Homo sapiens: one gene and its partners. The protein of the gene in region 3 interacts with the protein of the main gene of each other region in a pairwise test. Each region holds a gene or a part of one and is shown on either strand. Other genes may lie near its edges.

Evidence for each region.
Region 1: the proteins of IQCB1 (region 3) and PCMT1 interact in binary tests that used the Homo sapiens proteins (3 or more experiments, as listed by UniProt).
Region 2: the proteins of IQCB1 (region 3) and MNS1 interact in binary tests that used the Homo sapiens proteins (3 or more experiments, as listed by UniProt).

The regions. Positions count from the first base shown.
Region 1 is NC_000006.12:149,808,741-149,811,919, forward strand, and holds the end of PCMT1 (protein-L-isoaspartate(D-aspartate) O-methyltransferase), read left to right. Parts: intron 1-1,875; coding exon of another isoform or gene 1,876-1,888; 3' UTR 1,889-2,679; downstream 2,680-3,179. UniProt on the Homo sapiens protein: Initiates the repair of damaged proteins by catalyzing methyl esterification of L-isoaspartyl and D-aspartyl residues produced by spontaneous isomerization and racemization of L-aspartyl and L-asparaginyl residues in aging peptides and proteins.
Region 2 is NC_000015.10:56,428,224-56,434,137, reverse strand, and holds the end of MNS1 (meiosis-specific nuclear structural protein 1), read left to right. Parts: exon of another isoform or gene 1-963; intron 964-2,639; coding exon 2,640-2,765; intron 2,766-3,983; exon of another isoform or gene 3,984-4,944; coding exon 4,945-5,037; 3' UTR 5,038-5,414; downstream 5,415-5,914. Other genes in the region: TEX9 (testis-expressed protein 9), read right to left, coding at 5,694-5,771. UniProt on the Homo sapiens protein: Microtubule inner protein (MIP) part of the dynein-decorated doublet microtubules (DMTs) in cilia axoneme, which is required for motile cilia beating.
Region 3 is NC_000003.12:121,768,154-121,777,314, reverse strand, and holds the end of IQCB1 (IQ calmodulin-binding motif-containing protein 1), read left to right. Parts: intron 1-4,601; coding exon 4,602-4,758; intron 4,759-6,740; coding exon 6,741-6,970; 3' UTR 6,971-7,554; downstream 7,555-9,161. UniProt on the Homo sapiens protein: Involved in ciliogenesis. The function in an early step in cilia formation depends on its association with CEP290/NPHP6.

The DNA.
Region 1 (3,179 bases), on a different chromosome or scaffold from region 3:
ATTCTCCTGCCTCAGCCTCCCGAATAGCTAGGATTACAGGTGCATGCCACCACACCCGGCTAATTATTTGTATTTTTAGTAGAGACGAGGTTTCACCATGTTAGCCAGGATGGTCTCGATCTCCTGACCTCATGATCCGCCCGCCTTGGCCTCCCAAAGTGCTGGGATTACAGGTGTGAGCCACTGCCCCTGGCAAATTGTAGTAAATTATTTAAAAATAACAATATCTTTGGCTTGGGCATGGTGGCTCACACCTGTAATCCCAGCACTTTGGGAGGCTGAGGTGGGCAGATCACTTGAGGTCAGGAGTTCGAGACCAGCCTGAGCAACGTGGTGAAACCCTGTCTCTACTAATAATACAAAAAAAATTTAGCCGGGTATGGTGGTGCCTGCCTGTAATCCCAGCGACTCGGGAGGCTGAGGCAGGAGAATTGCTGGAACCTGGGAGGCAGAGGTTGCAGTGAGCCATGATCACACCACTGCACTCCAGCCTAGGTGACAGAGCGAGACTCTGTCTCAAAAAAAAAAAAAAAAAAAAAAAGCCAAAACAAGAAAAACAATATCTTCAGTTCATATTCTAAAAAGCAGAAGTGAATTTTACTTTATGAATAGAGCACTTTGCAAATAATTCTTTGTTGACCAAATATTTTAATGCCTGCATGAGTTAAGTAAAAGCTGTTCTATGAGAATTATAACATTGTTATTTGGAAGAATATATTAAGAGGAAGCAGACTTATGATTTGTCATTTAATAGATAATCCAATACTATAGGATAAAGGCAGCTTATTGGAGAAATGATTTTAAAAATATTTTCTTGCACAATTTACAAAATTTAGTTTAAAAAAATTGTCCAGTAATTTACCCCCACTTACTTGTGAAATTATGAGCTCTTTATTTCTTCTTCCCTTCAAATTTATCTTAACAACTTTTTCAAAACTTTTAACTTTAATTTTTATTGCCAACAAGTTGCTAGGATAGTACAAATAACTCCTAAATCTCTTCATCCAGAGTCATCAATTATTATCATTTTTCTACATTTCTTTCCCCTCTTTCTATATATACATATATGTAATTTTTTTCCTTTTTCTTAAACCACTTGAGACTTAATTATCAATATCATGCTTCTTTACCCCTAAAGTTCTTGTTTTTGTCACTCACATTACCTTCAGCTATGAGGCTTGTGGGCTTCTCTCGTGGTTTTATTCATTTTTTCACTTTTAACAGTTTTACTGAGGTATAACTGAGATACCATACAGTTTATTTTAGACTGCATTTTTATTCCTTCCTTCCTCTCACTGGCAGTTGCTGGTACAGTGCTGCACCTGGCTGAGTGAATGGTTTCTTTTGGAGCTGATAAAGCTGCCTTATGAAATCAGCTGACAGGTATATTATACCTACAGATGATGCCTTTTCTCTCAGAGCGCTTGGGTTGAGATTGACCCACTCCACAATTGCTAGTGGACATTCTGAGCAAAAGACCACATTTCTGTCCAATTTTGTGAATGTAACTATCAACTCATTTGAACTCTAAAACACTTAAGTTGTCATTTTACTATAGTGTAAAGATGACCGTAGATCTAAAAGATATTTTTTCTGAATTTTGACATTGAAGGAAGAAATCTATTTTTAGAAATCAAAAATGAAGAACTCACGCCCTTTAGGTTGCATACTTGGTTCTGGAGTGGCATGGAAGATGTTTGGAATGGCTGACCCTCTGTTGCTTTCACTTGGGTTGTTTGCATTTTTATTTTTTAAATATATTGCTTGGTGATCAGCGCATTTTTATTGACTTAATAGTTGTGTCTAAACTATTATAAAGCCAAATTGGGTAGTGTGTAACTCCTACTAATGTATTTCTCTCTTTTTTCCTCACAGGGATGAATTGTAAAAGCAACATCAGCTTGACCAGTATAAAATTACAGTGGATTGCTCATCTCAGTCCTCAAAGCTTTTTGAAAACCAACACCATCACAGCTTGTTTTGGACTTTGTTACACTGTTATTTTCAGCATGAAAATGTGTGTTTTTTTAGGGTTTCTGATTCTTCAAAGAGGCACAGAGCCAAATTGGTAGAGGAAGGATGCAAAGTATAAATTTGTGTAATATTACTTTAACATGCCCATATTTTACTTGGAAATATTAAAAGAAAGGGTTCTGTAAAATGGAAAACTTAGTTTGTGAATTGATTTTGAGGAGTGGTTTTTCTTTTCTTGGACACTTAATTCTGTTCTGATATTAATTTATCAGATTGCTTTTGTGCATTGGATAACACCACCATTCACAAGTTAAGATTCTTGGTATTTGGATATCTGTTAGATGCTACTAAGAAAATAGAGATGAGCTTTCTTTTTAAAGCTTTTGATGTGGTGTCATAGAATAGCATGTTGTAGATACAATCAGCTGCTTTGTTACCTTAAAACTAGGCATTTGTAAATATTAAACCATAAGATGGCAGGTGATGTCCTGTAAACACTCAGCTGTTCAGATTGGACATAACTGACTTAGTTCTTCCCTTCTCTCTCTCTCAAAATTATAGGAGACTTGTAGTTTAGTGTGGTTTTCTGTTTCTAATTTGCTGCTGATAATGTATATGAACTTAACATGCTGTGTAAGCTGTGTCCTAGTTCTTGAACAGTTTATGCAGTGCTGCTTTGCCAAATAAAGTTAAAAGTAAAAGAGGCATTGGTTGTTTTTGAATATAGAAGGAAGAACAGCAAGTCCACCAGATAGGGAGTGTTTACGATCATGGGAAAAAGACTGTTTCTCTGGTTGTTTCCTTTTGCGAAGTCTGAGTAAGTAATTAGCATTAATCCAACTGTACATTGTAGAATGTGACTACACTGCTCCAGGGCCAGGACCGTACTTCAGTCGTCATTTCTCTTTGACTCCCTAGCCCAGGGCTTGCCCTGTAGTAGCTATACAGTAAATGCTGGTGAGTGAGTGAGTGGTGAATGAATCGACTTAAAGTCAGGAAAGAACAGGATTGAGGGTGAACAGACCAAAACCCATCTCTCACCTATACAAAGATTTATTAATATAATGACTATAGCTGAATTTCTAAGAAGGCAGTAGCACTTTGGGATCTTATTTAAATGTTGTGATTTATAACTTTTATAAGAAGTAGTTCTGGAACTGAGGAAATATAAGCTCCAGAATGAGCAGAATCAGCACTCCCAGCAA
Region 2 (5,914 bases), on a different chromosome or scaffold from region 3:
GTAAGAAAAAGTTGTGGGGTTTTTTTGGTCATTATCATTAAACAGCAATAGCTCATCTATCATCCACTAAACATTTACTGAGAAGCTTTATATGCCAGACAATGTTAGTATGTTTACTAATATATATATAAATTTTCTGACCATTTTTGCTTCTAGAAAATATTTATTGATGCTTTCTATGTGCTAAACACTGGTTGGTATTGAGAACATAAAAGGTAAATAAAACTAAGTCCATGTCACTTATGAATTTATGGTCTTGGTTAAGAAAAATATATAAAAAGTAATTATAAATATGTCATGTACATGTGATAATAGGTTATAGAGCTATGGATGTTTTGGTATGGCAGAGAGAGAAACAGATCATGAACACCCTGCATGCTATTTTAAGAAGGTGGGCTTTTCTAAGGGAAGCCACTGAAGATTGAAAAGCTGTATATTAAGATCTGTACTTTGAAAGACGATTCAAGTGAGAGCATTGAAGGTAGATAAGAGATGAGTAAGCTCGGAGATAGGGAGATCAGTAAGTAAGTTATTATAATAATCCCAGTGACAAGTGGTGAAACCCATGCAAATAGATAAGGGATCCACCCGAGAGATGTTAAGGATACGGAATTGATGGGGCTTGGTGACCAGTGAGATCTAGGGTGAGAGAAGACTTAAGGCTACCCCTAATAAATAATACTGTCATTCCATCTTTTTAATTATTTTTTTAATATTTTTAAGTTCCAGGATGCATGTGCAGAACATGCAGGTTTGTTACACAGGTATACATGTGCCATGGTGGTTTGCTGCACCTATCAACCCGTCATCTAGGTTTTAAGCCCTGCATGCATTAGGTATTTGTCCTAATGCTCTCCCTTCCCCTTGTCCCCCCCACCCCCCGACAGGCCCTGGTGTGTGATGATGTTCCTCTCCCTGTGTCCATGTGTCACTTCCATCTTTAATGGGTGACTGGGTGACATCCTAAGGAAAGAGTATAGAGGAAAAGAAATAGATTTTGAGGGTGCAAATAATTCTATTTTGTCCACCCAAAATGATTTGGTGGCCCAGGGGAAGATTACTAGTTGGAAATGTAGATTTAAGTGTTGGAGAGGGAATGAAGTTTTTGGCTTTGGATACATTGACTTATTTATGTCTCATCCGTAAAACTAAATACTTATATTGTCTCACTAGATTTTGTGGTTTAAGAACCAAATGGATAATATGTAGGTGTTTTGAAAATCGGTAGGAAGAGAAGAATTTAGAGGAAGACTAAGTGAGACTTACATGACTTCTTTTAAAACTATACAAAGTAGGAGTCAAAATAATGCAGATGTTTCAAATATGAGAAACTCATGGGAATACAAGTGCTGTTATATTTCAGATTGGAGCTCATCTGTTCTCAGAAGCTAAGCAGGATCAGGCCTGGTTAGTACTTGGATAGGAGAAAGCTCCTGGAAAAGTTAGCAAGACAACTAACTAGAAATCAGACTAAAAACTAAATGGAAATCAGATAAAGCCACCTAATGCATAGATACTTATACAAATAATTTTTGTCTTAATTTTTAAAGACTTATAAATGTTCCCAATATGAAGCTGTCGGCTTAGTTTTGTCCGTTTGATTGGGCAACATTTTTGTTCTGGCCCCAAGTCAAGGACAGATCTTCGTGATGAAACTCATTATACAATCCTATAAGGTCTAACCATGTTTTTTGGATTTCAGAGACATTCCTAAATAGGTATCTGTAATTCTGTCTACCTCTACGAAAATCATACGGTCAGACAAAATCTGAAACTTCCCAGGAGGTAGTTTCCTACACCAAAGCTATTCAGAATTTGTCCTAAATGGATAAGTTGATTTCGTAACTGCCTAAACAATTTAATTTACTATAAATTTTTCTTTTTAGGATAAACATTGAATGTGGCCTGCCAGATCCTTCTTAGGAAAATCTGCATTAGCCCAAAGTAGACTCTACCATTGGACAAAAATGTATCAAGTTTGCTTTCCCCTGTAACATTACAGAACTTTCCTGTATCTCCTCTTTATAAGGAATGGATGAATTAAGATAGAATTAGGTTTGAATGCAAGTACAGTCTCAAATTAACAGTGGCTTAGTAGATTACTGTTCTTTCACGTAGTTCAAGTCATCTTTTCTATATGGCCCAGAATTTTGATGTGATTATTTAAGAGTGAGCACTTTCCTAAGAAATACTAGTGGAATTCTCATGCTTCATATCATCTTTATATATATATATATGAAAATATCCTTTAGATATTTCTGATCTTCTTTATTCACTATTTTTTGTTTTACACTGTAAACTCTTCAGCATCTGGTATATGGTAAGCATTCAGTAAATATTTACTGTATTAGGCAGTCACTCCTTTGAATATTTTTTCCCTTGGTAATGAAGACACTTTCCTGAAAATATTTGTTTGCCTCCTTGTAATTTTAAAGGAATAATGACAGTAAAAAATACATAGATATGTGTACAGACATAAAATATATATTTTAAAAATATATATTATCTAGAATCTTTTGAACTTAGTGTCATAAATAGTTCATCAATTTTATCTAATTCATTGCATGAGTAGTTTTATTTGAAAACTTCGTATAAGATTAATGTACTTTGTGATAACAAAATTTGATCTGCATTTCCAGCAACGTGAACTAGAAGAGTGGCAGTTGCAGCAAAGGCGGCAAGGATTTATTAATGCAATTATTGAAGAAGAAAGGCTAAAACTTCTTAAAGAGCATGCTACAAACTTACTAGGCTATCTCCCTAAAGTAAGTGAGATTTATCTCAAGTTGTAATCTTCATGACCTGTAATAGTGAAAAAAACATGGTATTTGGATTTTAGAGTGCCTTGGTTTTGCTCACTTCTTGCTCGGTTATGAAGCAGCAATGGGATCCTCCTGTCCAGGCACTGAACCTCTCTGGGCCCATTTCAGTATATCTAAAATGATTGGTCTTAGCACATTATTAGATGTATGAGCTTGATTTACTGAATTTGTACCTTATTTATCGCCCAGGCTGGAGTGCAGTGGCAAGATGTCAGCTTACTGCAACCTCTGCCTCCCGGTGATTCTCCTGCTTCAGCCTCCTGAGTAGCTGGGATTACAGGCGTTTGCCACCACACCCAGCTAATTTTTGTATTTTTGGTAAGGACAGGATTTTGCTATGTTGGCCAGGCTGGTCTTGAACTCTTGGCCTCAGGTGATCCATCTGCCTCAGCCTCCCCAAGTGCTGGGTGGGCCACCACACCTGGCCTGAGTTTGTATTTTAGAGTTTCTTTTCTCCCCTTTTAGTGTAGGAAATCTAAAGCTACCCTAGAACAACTGTAGTACTTACATGCCAAAGATGAGAATGTGTATGAAAACATTGTCACTGGTAACACCAGTAATAGGCACATGGTTGAACTGAGCTTGAGACTACCCTAGAACTGTAGTACTTACATGCCAAAGATGAGAATGTGTATGAAAACATTGTCACTGGTAACACCAGTAATAGGCACATGGTTGAACTGAGCTTGAGACAGATCTGCTCTACAGTAGGAAGTTATAACTAGTTAAACTTGATTTTTAAAATTCCAGAAGATAGTGAATTTTAATGTATACCTGAGACACACTGTGACTTCAAATAAAATAGTAACTGGCTGGGCATGGCAACTCATGCCTATAATCCCAGCACTTTGGGAGGCTGAGGCAGGAGGATCACCTGAGCCCAGGAGTTCAAGACCAGCCTGGGAAACATGGGGAGATGCCATTGCTACAAAAAATAAAAAGTTAACTGGATGTGGTGATGCACGCCTGTAGTCCCAGATACTCTGGAGGCTGAGGTTGGAAGATTGCTTGAGCCTGGAAAGTTGAAGCTGCAGTGACCCATGATCTTGCCACTGCACTCCAGCCTGGGCAACAGAGTGAGACCCCGTCTTGTCTTAAAAAAGTAATAACAGTTTCATAGGCCACATAAACATCTAGACTCATATAAATAAGATCGCCATCTTTCAGCTATAGAAATGCCATTTCATATTTTATTCAGTAGAATCAAGTGCATATTTATTTTATTATATTCACTCTGGTGCTAAGGAAGGAAAAAGATATATAGGTAATTACTGCCTGGCCACAGGACTTGATAGTCTAATTGGTTAGAAAGGATTAAGGAATACAAAATGATGTATTAATGATAAAATCCATATGTAATTAATACATTTCATAAACTAAATTATAAATTGTAGGAATGTCTTTCTTTGGGATTTGATATTTTTGTAGAGGAAATAATTGTGGAGGCAGCAGGAGGGATTAATAAACTTGATATCCAAAAATGACCTTTATCCTTTAGGTCCTAATGGTGCCAAATGACTTCAGTTATCCCTAAAATTCTTTATTCTTTAGATTGCAATTTAAGTAAATATTTAATTTTGTTTTAAAGAGCCTTTTGCAGTATACTGTAGGGGAAAAGAAAAATAGAACAGTGAAGAATTCCAAAGGGTTTGCTTAAATGGCTTAACTCCAAACCTGGATTCTTTTCTGCAAGATTGACTGTTTGCTGATTAGCCATAGAACTGAGGCATGAAGAACTAATCCCATGCATGAATCTACTGAAGCTCACCATTATATCATATTATAGAGCTATTTAAAGAAAAGGGTAGGGTACAGTATAGATGAAGTGCCTTCCTATCTAGGTAATCCAAGCAGTAGAACTTGTAGAAGAGCTCAGATTCCTATGAAAAGCTCCTACACTAGAGCTGATAAATCAGAAAATTGGGTCAGTCTAGGAATATTCAATATATATGTAAAGTCTTATTTTTTGAAAAGTATTGATTTTTTTAAAGTTTCATTAATCTGTTGAATAGATTTCATTACCTTGGAGATAACTTTACTAATCTTATGTCTGTCAGTCTTAAAAGCATTTAGTGAAATATTCTGGTATTCAAAAGTAACCCACAAAGTATTTTTCTCGTAGGGAGTATTTAAAAAAGAGGATGATATTGATCTGCTTGGTGAAGAGTTCAGGAAAGTATATCAACAAAGGAGTGAAATTTGTGAAGAGAAATGATATCATCAAAATTGGGTAAAGCATAGATTTTTTGCATGTTACCACTAGATGTCAGCATAACTTTTGTTTTACAGTTCAGTGGCATTAGGTATCCATTGTCTGTTTGGATTTTGTAAATCATCACTGAATTTCATAACTTGTAAACAATTATCAGATACAAATTAATTTTAATCAAGCTGTTATTTTTGTACTGATAATTTCAAAATCCGATTTCTACAACACTACAGAGCACTGTTTGCATCCCCATCCTCAAGACAGTATATTTACCTTGACTAATACAGAACTCTACCCCAAAGTGAACTGCCTTCTGTCTGTGTTTACGAACTTTACTTACTTGATTTAGCCAGGGAAATAAATATTTGGAATTTTCTTTTAAAGCATCTTTTTTGGTCTACTGTAAGGGAGGAGAATTATAAATGAAAAGAGTCAAGAATTTTATTATCTGATGTGCTTAATTGTCACGCTAAGAACTTAAAAAACAACTCAAAAAGAGCTAATAGCTAATCTCCTAAATCTAAAAAGGGAATTCTTTGAAATTATTTTGCTTTCATAATCAAATATATTACTTATGAAGAATAAAAATAATTCAAACCACTACAATAAGTAAAATGGGTATCCATCACATACTGTCATAGAGACTAACTGAAGTAGATCACTTATGAATTTCCCCATTCAAGTGCTTTCATAAATTCCTCCTCAGTGAAAGATAGCATCTTGGCAGCTTCAATATGCATCTGTTAAAAAAAAAATCAATATTGTCTGATTTAGTATTAAGAGTAGGCCACCAAACAACAGGAAGTTTGTAAAAATGTGTGGATAATATATTGTCAGAATATAAGTTCTGTTGTAGGAATGTATACTCTTAATTCCAATAAGC
Region 3 (9,161 bases):
TCTGTAGGTACACTCAATGACATGTGCACAGTGCCAGAATCACCTAACAGCACATGTATAGCAAACTAATTATTGACAGAGATATACAGTTAATGCAGAAAAACTGGAGCAATTGGCTATTCACATGTCAAACAATTGAACTTGAAGCCATACTTCACTTCATATGCAAAATGTAACTCAAAGTAGATCATAGGCCTAAATGCAAAACCTAAAACTATAAAACTTCTAAAAGGAAACAATGGAGAAATATTGTGACCTTTCTTGAATACAATACCAGAAGCATGATTCAAAAAGGAAAATTTGATATATTGGCTTTATTGAAATTTAAAACTTCTCTTCATAAGACACCATTAACAGAATTAAAGAAACAAGGCACAGATTGGGAGAATATCATTGCCAAGCATATATTTGATAAAGGTCCTATATCCATAATATAGAAAGAACTCTCAAAACTAAACAGTAAGAAAACATATGAACTAGTTGTTTTGTTTTTTAAATGGACAAAAGCTTTGAACAGATACTTCACCAAAAGATAGATGACAAATAAACACATGAAAAATGCATCATTAATCACTAAGGAAAATGCACATTAAAACCACAATAAGGGCCCAGCACAGTGGCTCATACCTGTAATCCTAACACTTTGGGAGGCCAAGGTGGGAGGATTGCTTCAGCCCAACAGTTTGAGACCAGCCTGGGTAACATATTGAGACCCTCTCTCTAATTTTTTTAATAAAAATTTAAAATTTTTCAAAAAATAACCGACAGTAAGATACTTCATACCTGTTGGAATTTTAAAAATGGAACATGCCAAAGGTTAGCAAGCATGTGGCAGAGTCACCACTTAGGGGAATGTAAAAGAGTACAACTACTTTGGAAGACAGTTCAACAGTTTCTTTAAAAATTAAACATACATCTATCATATGATTCAGCCATTCTACTCCTAGATATTTACCCCAGAGAAAAAGAAATATATGTCCATATAGACACTTGTACATGAATGCTCATGGCCAAAAACTAGAACCATGGAGTACCATTCAGCATGTATAAAGGAATAAATTGATACTCTCAACAACATGGATGAATCTCTGGCCGGGCATGGTGACTCACGCCCATAATTCCAGCACTTTGAGAGGCCAAGGCAGGTGGATCGCTTGAGCCCAGGAGTTCGAGGCTGCAGTGAGCAGTGATGGCACCACTGCACTCTATCCTGGGTGAGAGAGTGAGACCCTGTCTTCAAAAAAAATTTTTAAAGAAAAAGAAAAAAAAACGTGGATGAATCTCAAAATAATTATGCTAAATGAAAGAAGCCAGACAGAGTAGAATACATTCTTTATGATTCCCTTTATGTAAATTCTAAAAATATAAACCAATCTATAGTAACATTAAATAGATAAGTAGTTGCTTGGGATAAGTAGTTGGTGGATGGGTAGGATGAGGATAAGGGTTTACAAAAGGAAACAAGGAAACGTAGTGATGAACTAGGTATGTGTATGTCAAAGCTTAGCAAATTGTACCCTTTCAATATTTGTTGTTTAGTGTATGTTATTTTTACGTCAATAAAGCTATATTTTTTAAAAGGTTGTTTTAACCTAAATGCTTAAAAAAAAATTTAGGGGTCCTGAGATTTTAAAAATAATCAGCCTGGCCACCAATAAAACATGGCCAATGAATCTCTTCTTTTTAATTATTATTATACTTTAAGTTCTGGGATACATGTGCAGAACATGCAGGTTTGTTACATAGGTATACATGTGCCATGGGTGGTTTGGGACCCATCAACCTGTCATCTACATTAGGTTTTTCTCCTAATGCTATCCCTCCCTTAGTTCCCTACCCCACGATAGGCCCCAGTGTGTGATGTTCCCCTCCCTGCGTCCACGTGTTCTCATTGTTCAACTTCCACTTATGGTTGAGAACATGCAGTGTTTGGTTTTCTGTTCTTGTATTAGTTTGCTGAGAATGATGGTTTCCAGCTTCATCCATGTCTCTGCAAAGGACATAAACTCATCCTTTTTTATGGCTGCATAGTATTCCATGGTGTATATGGCCAGTGAATCTCTTAAGTGCTGATCAATCATATTAGCAACTCCTCCCTTAGCCAAACACCAGAACCGAGTTGGAGAGAGGGGCAGAACCACAACTGAAAGATTTTTCCTGTGAGCAGAGGTAGAATGAAGACAGACAGAAGCATGCCTCCTCTCCAACAAACAGATAATCAGTTCCTAAGCTCTGTAGAGAGGACTATATTGCTTTTAACAGTTTTAATCATTTACAAATTTAATCACCTTTATAAAAATTACATACCCAAGCCCCACACACCCCAAGAAATTCTGATACAGTAAGTTTTGTGTGGCCTCATGTATCTGTATTTTTAAAATTTATTTATTTTCAGGGTGGTAAAATAGATAAAATATAAAAATTACCATTTTAACTATGTTTAAATGTAGTTTGGTAGCATTAAGTACATTCATATTGTTTGTGCAAGCTTCACCACCATCCCATCTTCAGAACTTTTTTCATCTTGCAGAATGGAAACTCTGCATCCTTTAAACACTAACTCACCATTCCCTCACTACCCAGCTTCTGGCAACCACCATTCTACTTTCTGTCTCCATGAATTTGCCTACTCTAAGTACCTCATGAGTAGAATCATACTTCATTGTTTCAGTTAGTATAATGTCTTCAAGGTTCATGTTTTAGCATATGTCGGAATTTTCTACTTTTAAAGGCTGAATAATATTCCATTATATATACTACATTTTGTTTATCCAAGGAACACTTGGGTTCCGTCCACCCTTTGGCTATTGTGAATAATGCTACTGTGACCATGTGTGTACAAATATCTGTGTGTGTACTTGCTTTCAATTCTTTTGGGTGAGTATCCGAAATGGAAATGCTAGATTGTGTGCTAATTCTTTTTAAAAATTTTTTTGAGGAACTGCCATACTGTTTTCCATAGTGGCTGTACCATTTTACATTTCTACCAGTCACACACAGGGTTCCAGTTTCTGTACATCCTTGTCAACATTAGTTATTTTTGTTGTAGTCATTGTTTTTGATAGCAGCTAATAGATATGAAGTTGTATCTTATGGTTTGAACTTGCACTTTCCTAATTAGTGATTTTGAGCATCTTTTCATGTGTTTATTGGCCGTTTCTTTATCTTTTTTGCAGAAATGTCTGTTCAAGTCATTTGTTTATTTTTTTTTCCACAGGGTTATATTTTGTTCATTTTTTAATCAGGTTGTTTTTTGTAGAGTTTTGGGAGTTCTTTATATATTATGGAGATTAATCCCTTAGATGTATGATTTGCAAACATTTTATGCCATTCTGTGGACTGCCAGTTAACTTTCTTGATAGTGATCTTTGGTGCACCAAGGTTTTTAATTTTGATGAAGTTCATTTTGTCTGGTTTTTGTTGTTGTTTTTTTTTTCCTGTGCTTTGGTGTCGTATGAAGAAATCATCACCAAAACCAATGTCATGATGCTTTTCCTGTGTTTTCTTCTAGGAGTTTTACAGTTTTAGCTCTTATGTTTAGGTCTTTGATCTCTCTTTTTCTAATACACTATATGTAGTTCTGATGCATGCTCCTGTTTTTCTTTTTTTAAAGTGCTTCTTTAGCCATACTCTAGTGCAGCTGTTTAAGATCCTGTGGCTGAGAAGTAAGGTTTTAGTGGAACAGGGTCATATCCAGGATAGGAACAGGAATATTTGAGAAAGCTGTGGTGTCAGGTTCTTTATCACCTCCAAAGTTAAGATTATTTCATCCTTGCCCAAACTAATCAGTTAAGTTCCCCTTAAATTAGCTGACTAGCCAAAAGAACATGGTCCTTTGGATGATTTTGTCCCTTGTTCTGTGGATCCAGAAGCAGTTACAACATATGGCTTGGATAAGTTTGGGAGTGAGAATGGGATAAGAAGTAAAACAAAGAAACAAAGGGATTGGCGTTGTTACACCTGTTATAGGCCAGTGTCTTTTTTTTTTTTTTTTTTTTTTTAAGGCAGAGTCTTGCTCTGTTGCCTAGGCTGGAGAGCAATGGCGCAATCTCGGCTCATTGCAAACTCTGCCTCCCAGGTTCAAGTAATTCTCCCGCCTCAGCCTCCCGAGTAGCTGGGATTACAGGCACCCACCATCATGCCTGGCTAATTTTTGTAGAGATGGGTTTTCACCGTGTTGGCCAGGCTGGTCTTGAACTCCTGACCTCAGGTGATCCACCCACCTTGGCCTCCCAGAGTGCTGGGATTACAGGCGTGAGCCACCACACCCGGCCCCAGGCCAGTGTCTTTACGAAACCATTTGTAATTTTTCACTGTGATCTCTCAAGCTTATCTCTTCTCCCATAATTCCACAGTGTCTGAGAAAGTAAAGTATAGGCACATACAAAAAAGAAAGACAAAAAACTTCTCCACCATTATTTTTATCTAAAACTTTTAAGAGACTAATTAATACTTGCATAAGAGTACAAGATAGACATCAATCATAAGATTCAATTGATAAAATGAGAGACAGCTAAGCAGTCTAAAACCTCTGCTAAGTGGTTGGGTACTTTGATACCTATGTCCTCTCTGTGACAGGTTTTTCTGTCCTGTGTTTCCAGGGCTCTCCAATGTCAGATGTGGTCAGTAGGGAGCTCCATGCCCAAGCTCAAGAACGACTGCAACACTACTTTATGGGCAGGGCCCTAGAAGAGCGAGCCCAGCAGCACAGAGAAGCTCTGATAGCACAGATCAGCACCAACGTTGAACAGCTAATGAGTATGTGCTCATTTTACTTTCGTTCTCTAAAAGGAACAACCTATGCGAGGTTTGTGACATCCAAAACCTTTAGAAGGAAACCATTACTAAGCATCTTTAGCTCATCCCCTAACCTCAGGAAATTTCTACATAGATCAGACCAGCACACAATGTTTTCAAATGATGCGGATTTTATAACCACCTTCTTACCTGTTTCCCCAAGCCTTGCCATCATTCATATGTGTCACCCCAAAGTTATTAATTTCAGATGCTGAGCCCTACTAGCCATCTTTTACTAAGTAATCTGAAAAGCTTTTGGTCATATTTTGTAAGTAGATGATGACAATAGTTACAGTGCCATTCACTTGTAGAGCATTTTATAAATTTTTTTTTATTATTATTTTGAGACGGAGTCTTGCTCTGTTGCCAGGCTGGAGTGCAGTGGTGTGATCTTGGCTCACTGCAACCTCCGCCTCCCACGTTCAAGCGATTCTCCTGCCTCAGCCTCCCCGAGTAGCTGGGACTACAGGTGCGCACCACCACGCCCAGCTAATTTTTGTAGTTTTAGTAGAGACGGAGTTTCACCATGTTGGCCAGGATGGTCTCGATCTCTTGACCTTGTGACCTGCCTACCTCGGCCTCCCAAAGTGCTGGGATTATAGGCGTGAGCCACCGTGCCTAGCCTATAATTTTTAATGAAGCACTTTACAAAAATGAATTCATCATAACCACTGATCCATTTAATGAGAGATCCCATCCATGAAGCCCCTGTGTTTCAGTCAGCATCTTGGATTTCTTTAGTATATGTAAACAGAAAGGACCAGTGTTTTCTATTTAATGGCCACTACTTGGTAATTTTATATTCTTAAATTGGATAAATGGCTGAAACTGAGCCTCTCATCTATAGGATGAGGTTCTATTAAAGTTTCTATTCTTTAAATAAACCATCTTGGCTGGGTGAGGTGGCTCATGCCTCTAATCCCAGCACTTTGGGAGGCCGAAGTGGGCGGATCACGAGGTCAGGAGTTCGAGACCAGCATGACCAACATGGTGAAACCCCATCTCTACTGAAAATACAAAAATTAGCTGGGCATGGTGGCGGGTGCCTGTAATCCCAGCTACTCAGGAGGCTGAGGCAGGAGAATTGCTTGAACCCGGGAGGCGGAGGTTGTAGTAAGCAGAGATCGCGCTACTGCACTCCAGCCTAGGTGACAGAGTGAGACTTTGTCTCAAAAAATAATAATATAAATAAATAAGCCATCTTACAAAAATCTACATCTTTTTAAATTCCTTTAAACACAGAAATGGCCGGGCACGGTGGCTCACGCCTGTAATCCCAACATTTTGGGAGGCCGAGGTAGGTGGATCATCTGAGGTCAGGAGTTCGAGACCAGCCTGACCAACATGGTGAAACGCCCGTCTCTACTAAAAATACAAAATTAGCTGGGCATGGTGGCGCACGCCTGTAATCCCAGCTACTCAGGAGGCTGAGGTAGGAGAATTGCTTGAACCCAGGAGGCGGAGGTTGCAGTGAGCCGAGATCGTGCCATGGCATTCCAGCCTGGGCAACAAGAGCAAAACTCTGTCTCAAAAAAAAACAGAAATGGGCTGAATATGTTGACACATGGCTGTAATCCCAACACTTAGGGAAGCTGAGGCAGAAGGATTGCTTGAGTCCAGGAGTTTGAGACCAGCCTGGGCAGCATAGTGAGATCTCTACAAAAAAAGAAAAAACATTAGCTGGGTGTGGTGGCATAGTCCCAGGTACTTAGGAAGCTGAGGTGGGAGAATCACTTGAGCCCAGGAGGTTGAGGCTGCAGTGAGCCGTGATCTTGCTACTGCACTCCAGCTTAGGCAATAGAGCAAGACCCTTTCTCAAAAGTAGTACATTCAGAGTTGGAATGCTGTTTCTGCCTGCAGAGTTACAGCTCTGTAGCTTCCAAGTTCCTACCTGCTTGGCATAGGACTCTTCTGCTCATCTGTTTATTTTCTGTCCACTACAGAGGCACCAAGTCTGAAGGAGGCAGAAGGGAAAGAACCTGAGCTCTTCCTAAGTAGATCCAGGCCTGTGGCAGCCAAGGCCAAGCAGGCCCATCTCACAACCCTGAAGCACATACAAGCACCCTGGTGGAAGAAGCTTGGAGAAGAATCTGGAGATGAGATTGATGTTCCAAAGGATGAGCTTAGTATAGAATTAGAAAATTTATTCATTGGTGGAACCAAACCACCTTAGTGAGTAACCCTAAGAATTGACACAAATCTCATATTTTAGGAGATTATATTGGTTCTGCCTCTGGCATGCTGGTAGACTAGGGCCATCCTAACTTATTATTTTCCAGAGGTTCTCCTCCAGACAAGACCTGCAGTAAGCAAAGAGTTATATTCTACCTCTCTCTCAATTTTCTTTTTCTTTTCTCTGTATCCTCATCGTTAGCCACACACAGATTTGTGTGGCTTTTATTGTAGAACTAAACTTAGCATAGTGTTCTGTTGTTTACATGAAGTGTGTTTTTCTTTGGTTTCTTCTGTTTTCCAACTAAATATTTTTTTCTAAATAAATATTTTCAACAATTGATTTGAAAAATTTGTCAGGATTATTTCAACTTTTCACATTTGTTATCTGAAATTCCTATTTCCTGTTAACATAGGAGGTGTGTGCAGACTTTATTAATGTGAGGAAAAGAAATGCTCAATTGAAGGACATTTCCCTGTTTTCTATAAAGCAATGGTTGAACTCATTTTCTATTTTGTTATTTCTAAAAGGAACTGCATACCAAAAAAATGCATTCTTTCTATTAAACTGTGAGAACTACATAATGTACTGTTTCCCTTTTTGTCTTTTCTCCTAGGAATCTCAAAGCTAAATATAATGTTTAATTTTTGTTACAATCCTAGGTACCTTTATGATTATTTGGTTCCAACCTAATACTTTTCAGTTTCCCTGTTTACTTTAAATATGTTTTAATACCATAACATTGAAGCCACTTCAATTTGTGTTTGTAACAATATGGAATTTAAGTTAAAATCAATTAACAAATCATGACTCCATATCATAAAGAATCTGGAAGATGCTCTTTGTAAAATGAGTGAAAATACCAGTATTTCTGGATGTAAAGACCAAATTGTATAATATTGCGCAATCTCTAATGTTAACTTTAGTAAAATTCTAATCAAAATTCCTATATTTGTACTTATAATTGGAAAAGAAATGTAGAAAAATTATGTAAGAGTGTTGCTCCCAATTTAGCAAAGAAAATGCCAGATAATCTAGAACAATAATTTTTCTTGAGCCCATTAGATAGCTGAGGACTCAAGCCAACCATGTAAACTGGGATAGGAGTCTGTATCTGTGAAATGAAGTATTTCATCTATAGTAGAGCACAAGAGAGAAGTGGCTAGGTAAGAAGAAATCAAACAAAATTTTAGCAAATTCTTAAAGGCCAGGTGTGGGCTAGCACGTCTATTTAGAATATCTAAGAGCCACAGACATAAGAAGTTGGGCCTCTACCAAATGCTCACAAGAAAGATTGAGAGTTAAGGCCAGGCACAGTGCCTCACTCCTATAATCCCAGCACTTTGGGAGGCCGAGGCAGGTGGATTGCTTGAGCCCAGGAGTTCAAGGCCAGCCTGGTCAACATGGTGAGACCCTGTCTCTACTAAAAATACAAAAATTAGCTGGATTTGGTGGCGTGCGCCTGTAGTCCCAGCTACTCAGGAGGCTGAGGCAGGAAGATTGCTCGAGTCCAGGAGGCAGAGGTTGCAGTGAGCTGAGATTGTGCCACTGTACTGCAGCCAGGGCAACAGAGTGAGATCCTGTCAAAAAAAAAAAAAAGGTTGGGAGCAAGGCAAGAGGCCTGAAGAAGACCTTTGGGGTACAGGCAAACATGAAGTGATAGGCTGCTACTGGGTGACATAGGCAAAGTCCCCACTTCCCCTTTTAAAAGTCTTAAGCTGCTAGAGCGAGGGCAGTGAATCTCTCTTACCTTTAAGGCTCAGGCAAGATTCCAGGAAGTACTCCAGGACATTGGTCTGGGCAAAAATTTCTTGAGTATGACCTCAAAAGCACAGGCAATCAAAGCAAAAATAGTTTTACTTTTTTTTTTCTTTTTTTTTTTGAGACAGTTTCACTCTTGTTGCCCAGGCTGGAGTGCAATGGCCTGATCTTGGCTCACCACAACCTCCGCCTCCCGGGTTTGAGCAATTCTCCTGCCTCAGCCTCTCGAGTAGCTGGGATTACAGGCATGTGCCACCATGCCTGGCTAATTTTTTGTATTTTTAGTAGAGATGGGGTTTCTCCGTGTTGGTCAGACTGGTCTTGAACTCCCGACCTTAGGTGATCCACCCGCCTCGGCCTCCTAAAGCGCTGGGATTACAGGTGTGAGCCACCGCACCTGGTCAGTTTTACTTTTTTTACTCAAGATGGT